Linked DNA regions of Homo sapiens. The protein of the gene in region 1 interacts with the protein of each later gene in a biochemical or structural test. Each region holds a gene or a part of one and is shown on either strand. Other genes may lie near its edges.

Region 1 (3,748 bases):
ACATGATGTTCACGGTGCAGTGAGATATCATGTGCATTTCAATAAGTACATTAACACCTTTGTGTTTAGCCAGGTGCGGTGGCTCATGCCTGTTATCCCAGTACTTTGGGAGGCCAGCATGGCCAATATGGTGAAACCCTATGCCCACTAAAAATACAAAAATTAGCTGGGCATGGGGGTGCATGCCTACAATCCCAGCTACTTGGGAGGCTGAGGCAGGAGAATCATTTGAACCTGGGTGGCAGAGGCTGCAGTGAGCTGAGATCGCGCCACTGCACTCTAGCCTGAGTGACAGAGCAGGACTCTGTCTCACAAAAAAAAAAAAAACCTTTTTTTTTTACTACAGATTTTAAATCCAATTCTTAGGAGCAACCTGGAGAAGAAAGGGTACTTTTTGAATGATTTAAATCTTTGGGAAATGGGGATAAGGCAGGTTGTTTGTTGGAGTAAAAATACATTATAGGCTGAGCACGGTGGCTGACGCCTGTAATCCCAGTACTTTGGGAGGTCAAGGCAGGCAGATCACCTGAGGTTGGGAGTTTGAGACAAGCCTGACCAACAGGGAGAAACCCCGTCTCTACTAAAAATACAAAATTAGCTGGGCGTGGTGGCGCATGCCTGTAGTCCCAGCTACTCAGGAGGCTGAGGCAGGAGAATTGCTTGAACCTAGGAGGCTGAGGTTGCAGTGAGCTGATACTATGCCGTTGCACTCCAGCCTGGGCAACAAAAGCTAAACTCTGTCTCAAAAAAAAAAAAAAAAACAAGCTGGGAGCTGTGGCTCACACCTGTAATCCAAGCACTTTGGGAGGCCAAGGCCAGTGGATCATGAAGTCAAGAGATCGAGACCATCCTGGCCAACATGGTGAAGCCCCGTCTCTACCAAAAATACAATAATTAGCTGGGTGTGGTGGTGCATGCCTGTAGTCCCAGCTACTCGGGAGGCTGAGGCAGGAGAATCGCTTGAACCTGGGAGGCAGAGGTTGCAGTGAATTGAGATCGCACCACTGCACTCCAGCCCAGGCAACAGAGCAAGACTCTGTCTCAAAAAAAAAAAAAAATTATAAATAATCAGACATGAAATGAAGTCCTAATTGTAACCTGTAAATACTTAGCTCTTTGATCATCTAAGCTTTAGACATAAGAGCGGAAAAGGACATGAGGCAGATCCCAATTTCTCTGTTCTCTGTTTTATCAAGATTTTGTATATTTTTATTTTGTATATTTTATTTTAAGTGATATCCTTAGTTATGATAAAAATAGCATATAAGAGGAGGAGGATATAAAATCCAGTGTTTGACTTTTGGGTTCTGTAACAGCTGTCTTTTATATTTAACCTGCACCATTATCTTTTGGTGTCCTGGATAGGTGTCCTGTTTGCCGGTACTGTCAAACGCCCGAGCCAGTAGAAGAAAATAAGTGTTTTGAGTGTGGTGTTCAGGAAGTAAGTAATGGGTGATGGAAAAGAACAAAGAATGCAGCTTTAATTGTCATGAGTTTTCTTCTGCCTGGTATGACTTAAGTTCTTTATTTTTAATTTATTTTTTATTTTTTATTTTAAGAGACAGGGCTTACTGTGTTGCCCAGGCTGGTCTCGAACTCCTGGCCTCGAGCGGTCCTTCCACTTCAGCCACCCATAGTGCTGGGATTGCAAGTGTGAGCCACTGCACCCAGCCTAAATTCTTTAAAATTTTTTTTCTTTTTGTCTAGGGTTGGGCAAGACATATGAATACACAAATTATGTTACTCCTGAGCTAAATTTATTCCTTTTTTCTTTGCACTTTTGAAAGGCTTAGACTTTTACTGATGAATTGTGAATTTTTTTCTTGCTGTTCACATAGTGCTCCTTAGAAATCAGCAAAAAAAAAATGACCCATAAAAGCATCCTTGATTGTTGGGTTTTAAACATACATTTAATCACTCAGGCTCCTGTAGAAACAGTTTTTTCTTTTTCTTTTTCTTTTTTTTTTGAGACAGGGTATCATTCTGTTACCCAGGCTGGAGTGCAGTGGCATGATCATAGTTCACTGTAACCTCAAATACCTGGGCTCAAGCCTTCCTCCCATCTCATCTTCCCAAGCAGCTGGGACCACAGGTGCATGCCACCATGGCCTAGTAGGTTTTGTTTTGTTTTGTTTTTGTTTTTTCTAAAAAATTTTGTTTTTGTTTTTTCTACAAAAAAAACATTTTGTAGAGTTGGGGTCTTGCTATGTTGCCCAAGCTGGTCTTAAACTCCTAGGCTCAAGCGATACTCCTGCCTCAGCCTCCCAAAATGCTGGGATTACAGGTGTGAGCCACTGTGCCCAACCAACAATTCTGTCTTCTAGTGTCTCAGGTTCCTTCCCACTCTGAGTGAGCTGGATCGATTATTTGTTTGTTTGTTTGTTTTAAGACAGAGTCTTGTTCTTATCACCCAGGCTGGAGTGCAGTGGCACGATTTCGGGTCACTGCAACCTCCACCTCCTGGGTTCAAGCGATTCTCTTGCCTCAGCCTCCTGAGTAGCTGGGATTACAGGCAGCTGCCACCACGCCCAGCTAATATTTGTATTTTTAGTAGAGATGGGGTTTCATCATGTTGGCCAGGCTGGTCTCGAACTCCTGACCTCAGGTGATCCATCTGCCTCGGCCTCCGAGCCATCGCGCCCAGCCAGATCATTTATTTTTATTTAACTAATTAAGATCTTACCTCTTCCGGCAGAATCTTTGGATTTGTTTAATATGCGGCCACATAGGATGTGGACGGTATGTCAGTCGACATGCTTATAAGCACTTTGAGGAAACGCAGCACACGTATGCCATGCAGCTTACCAACCATCGAGTCTGGGACTATGCTGGAGGTGAATACCACTCTCTTTTCTAATTTGGACTCATTCTGTGTGGAAACTTTGCCTTCACAACGCCTTCACTTTCCCTCCCAGCTTGAAATGTCATCTTTTGACAGCTGTTGCAAACCCAAATTCTCAGTTTCCCTGAGGGCACTATTTTTCTAGGAATGTCTTGAATCACACATTATAAAGGGAGTTAATACTTCCATTCTTGCTTTCTCCCTCCCCTCTAAAATTCAAATGATTTGACACTTTTAAAGAAATATTGTAAGGCATTTAAATTAGATCTGAAAAAAAAATTTTGTCAGAGTTAAAAGTGTACAGAGACCCTTTTCATTCTAAAGAAACACACTTTTGTTGACTCTTTCTGTAGATAACTATGTTCATCGACTGGTTGCAAGTAAAACAGATGGAAAAATAGTACAGTATGAATGTGAGGGGGATACTTGCCAGGAAGAGAAAATAGATGCCTTACAGTTAGAGGTAAGAGATTTAATGAGTTATCACTCTATCTGTTTCTACTGCTCTTTACTATTCTAATTTGAAATATTTGTCATTTACCTGGATGTACATTTTTTTTTTAAAGTTTGGTCATGGCCGGGCGCAGTGGCTTATGCCTGTAATCCCAACACTTTGGGAGGCTGAGGCAGGTGGATCACCTGAGTTCAGGAGTTCAAGACCAGCCTGGCTAACGTGAAACCCTGTTTCTACTAAAAATGCAAAAAATTAGCTGGGCATGGTGGCACACACCTGTAATCCCAGCTCCTCGGGAGGCTGAGGCAGGAGAATCGCTTGAACCCGGGAAGCAGAGAATCGCTTGAACCTGGGAAGCAGAGGTTGCAGTGAGCCGAGATCGGGTCATTGCACTCCAGCTTGGGCAACAAGAGCGAAACTCTGTCTCAAAAAAAAAAAAAATGTTTGGTCAT
Region 2 (3,748 bases), on another chromosome or scaffold:
TTTCATATAAGAAATACTAGATTTTTTTTCAATAAAATAATTTGAGGCCTGGCGCGGTGGCTCAGCCTGTAATCCCAGCGCTGTGGCAGGCCAAGGCAGGGCGGATTGCTTGTGCTCAGGAACTGGAGACGAGCCTGGCCAACATGGCAAAACCCGGTCTCTACAAAAAATACAAAAATTAGCCGGGTGTGGTGGCGCACGCCTGTAGATCCAACTATTTGGGAGAATGAGGCACGAGAATCGCTTGTACTCGGGAGGTGGAGATTGCAGTGAGCAGAGATTGAGCCACCGCACTCCGGCCTGGGTGACAGAGCGAGACCCTGTCTAAAACAAAACACACATTAAAAAAAAAAAAACCACAAACAAAACCTGCAATTGGCCCTCGAAGGGCTGGTTCCCTCAGTCAGCTCTGCACGGGTGCGCCCCCTTTCTCCCTAGAGGTCAACAAGCGACTGCGAAGGAAAACGCCGCCACAAGTTTCTTGCTGTTTCTGGAGAGACCTCTCAGAGCGCATGCTCTTCGGATAGTCGGTCTGTAGCGCCATTTTCGTATGGAAGGGACTGCACTCTGATTAGGTACAGCCTTAGGACGCCCAGCGTTCAAGTTGTTCAAACAGTACGTAGAGCCTCGCAGAGACAAGTCAATGGCCTCTTTTAGCGGGACTCCTGCCTGGAGCGCTTCAGCTGAGACTATGTAAAGAAATTCCTTTGTGTTAACCTTCCTCCTTGGACCAGTGGACTCTCCTCTCTCTCCTGTTCCCTCCGCGCCCGCCCAGGCTGGCTCAGCGGTCTCGCCCCGCCCCTCCGGGACCGGAGCACTGTAAAGATTAGGCATCTGTGATGCTTTTGCGCTCACATTGGCGGCCCAGATGAGAGGGCGTGGAGAACCAGATGGGAAACTTTTTGTCCCGTGAGAACAAAGTACAAGTTATATCAGAGTCTGGTATGTGTAGAGGAAACCAATACATGTACTGTGAGCTAGGAGCTGGTGCTTCTTTTTCAATTGTATTTTTTATAAAGATGCAGACCCCCTCAGTGTTGGGCGTGGGGGGTGGCTGAAATGTTAGCTAGAGGCGAGGCAGGGCACGGAGATCTGAGGTTTTTACGAGTGTGTGTGTGTGTGTGTGTGTGTGTGTGTGCGCGCGCGCGCGCCCTACAAGAGTTTAGAAGAGCATGGGTGAGTGGGCGAGAAAGAAAGAGAATGAGAGAGAGAGAGAAAAGAAATCTGGAGTGGGACAAGACTTAGAGGGTGCAGAAAAGAAAGGGGGCGCCAGCACATCCTAGCCTCCGAGGCCGCGACAGCGCCTTTGGCGATGTCCACTCTCAACCCCGCCGTTTCATTCATAAGTTTCTGGCCTACAGGCCCCGCCCGCTCCCCTGGGCCGAGGGCCCCGTTTCCTGAACAGCAATTGGTGGACGGCAACAAAGCCTTAGCAACCGGCTCCTAGTGACCCGCGGGGCGCCTGGTAACTGGGGCTGCTGCGGAGAAAGGAGCGGGGCTGTCCCTTTAAGGGATGGCCGCGGAGTCGTGAAAGTGGAGGGGGCTGAGGGAGGGCGGGGAGGAAGGTCTGGGGGCGGACCCAGGGGGAGGAGGAGGAGGAAGAGTAACTGCTGAAAGGAGGTGGCGAAGGAGGATCCGGAGCAGCTGCTGCCAGCCCGCGGGCACTGAAGTCCTCCCGGCTGCCGCTCGAGTAGCCACGGGCGCGATCGGGACCAGAAGTCTCCTCCTCCATGATCACTTTGGAAGCCGGGGGAAGACTTTGCCCTGCCCTGAGAGCTGGTCTGCGTTTCCCAGGCGCGGCGGCGGCGGAGCAGCAGCTGCAGCAGCCGAGTCCAAATAGGAGCGGCCACAGCCAGGGGCGTGAGCGCCCCGCGCGGAGCGAGCTCGGGTTCCCCTCGGAATGTCCCCGGGGCGCCCGGCGCGCTGACCCCGAAGCCGCCTCCGCCTTCGGCGCCTGCTGCCTCCCTCGGCCAGGCTTGTTGTTCGGGACTGTGAGCTTCCTGGCTCCTGGGCAGTGGGGAAGCCCCCGGGGGCGAGTGACTTCAGCTGGCCACGACCCAGCCCTCCCCCGTGCGTATCTCGCTTAAGATGGCAGCGGAGTCAGGGGAACTAATCGGGGCTTGTGAGTTCATGAAAGGTGAGGAGCAGCCGCCCCGCATCTTCCAACGCTTTCTTGCCCCCAACTCTTCACTTCCCGCGCCACTGTCCCCACCTTCTCCTGAGGCTGCCAGTGTCCTGCAGCCGCTGCGCGCGCTCTCGTCCCCTCTAGGGACTCTCCTTTCTCCGAGGACCCCCTGCTTCCGGCTTCTCTTTCTTGTGTCCCTTGCTCCCTCTGCAGCTCCCTCGGATGGCCTCTCGGCCTCGTAATGGGACAGCACCGGCTTCTGCCCGTACTCCGGCACTCAGCAGCTCATGGGGAGCCTGCTCCGGATGCTCACCGGTCACCTTTACTCCACCATCGCAGGCTTCGGTTTTCGGGACACCCCCAACCACACCCCCCAAGTCTCTCTCCCTTCCTCTTTTTCAAATCTCCGAAGCTGCGTCGGGAGGCTCACCTCTTTCTTCCCCTTCTCGCAGCTGCTGAGGTCTGGAGATTTGGGAACCAAACTTGCACCTCCAGTTCTGCGGGTACCCCCAGCTCCTGCCTACTCTGCTGGCCTGAAACAAGGGAAATGTGGGTGCTCTGAGCCCCGCTGAGTTCCTCGGTCAGGTCCTCCTCTTGCCTAACTGTTGTGCTCTTGAGTCTCTAGCTTTCTGGGAGGGATGAGGTTTCTGCAAGAATTCCACGTGTTAATGGGGTCTTTAAATTGTGATCCTTCGTATGTTACCACCCACCTTCACTTCCACTTCTCTACTTCTCATATGTTTTTTCTGTCTTTTAAACTTGTCTTTCAGATCGGTTATATTTTGCTACTTTAAGGAATAGACCAAAAAGCACAGTAAATACCCACTATTTCTCCATCGATGAGGAGCTGGTCTATGAAAAGTAAGTTTATGTTTTGTTTTTTTTTCTCTTGGCCATTCAGCTTGTTCTTTGACGAGGAAACACTATGCACTTTTATGGCAGTTTTATTCATTTCCCCCCCAATGATACGAGTAACAATATCAATTTTTTAAGACTCAGGTGCCTGGGGAGAAGTTCAGAGAAAATTGACAGAATTTGAACCTTTCAACACTTCAGTTCTTTTAGACATCTATCTGTTTTAGTTCTTCCTACCACCACAACAAACAGCAACTGGAGATTCCTAACATTCCCCAGAGTAGGACCAGGGAGACACACTGTCATTGCCAGACTCAGTAATTGGCCTGTGAATCAGTCACTAAGTATTTATGGAGTGGCCATAGGGTACAGGGCAGTGCATGTATTACAGGTGCTTGAGCTTTATAGTTTACAAGACTTCTGTTCTATCTCAGGATGTTTTTGTTTGTGCAGCTCTTTTTCAGAAAGTGGGACACATTAACTGCGGGGAGCTGTATCAGAGTCACATTTATGACTAACATTTTATCTGACATATTATTGATTCTTTTATTTGGGTACCCCAAACTTTTTGATATTATTTTCTTTGCTTCTAAGGAAATGATATAGCAGTGCTGATTTATTTTCTTTGATTACTTTGCTTCTGTGGGATTAGGATTTGAGAGTGTAAAATAAAAGTAGGGAACTGTTTTCTGTGAAAGACCACTGATCTACAGGAAAAAGATATCTTAATACTTCAGGCATAGTAAAACATTAATTGAAGAGAGATAA

The links. Proteins that work in one complex are often made in the same cells at the same time.
Region 2: the proteins of BRAP (region 1) and CDC14A form a complex in vitro, tested with the Homo sapiens proteins (one study listed by BioGRID).

The regions. Positions count from the first base shown.
Region 1 is NC_000012.12:111,658,293-111,662,040, reverse strand, and holds part of BRAP (BRCA1-associated protein), read left to right. Parts: intron 1-1,365; coding exon 1,366-1,441; intron 1,442-2,695; coding exon 2,696-2,834; intron 2,835-3,195; coding exon 3,196-3,305; intron 3,306-3,748. UniProt on the Homo sapiens protein: Negatively regulates MAP kinase activation by limiting the formation of Raf/MEK complexes probably by inactivation of the KSR1 scaffold protein.
Region 2 is NC_000001.11:100,350,867-100,354,614, forward strand, and holds the start of CDC14A (dual specificity protein phosphatase CDC14A), read left to right. Parts: upstream 1-1,639; 5' UTR 1,640-2,088; coding exon 2,089-2,137; intron 2,138-2,895; coding exon 2,896-2,986; intron 2,987-3,748. UniProt on the Homo sapiens protein: Dual-specificity phosphatase. Required for centrosome separation and productive cytokinesis during cell division. Dephosphorylates SIRT2 around early anaphase.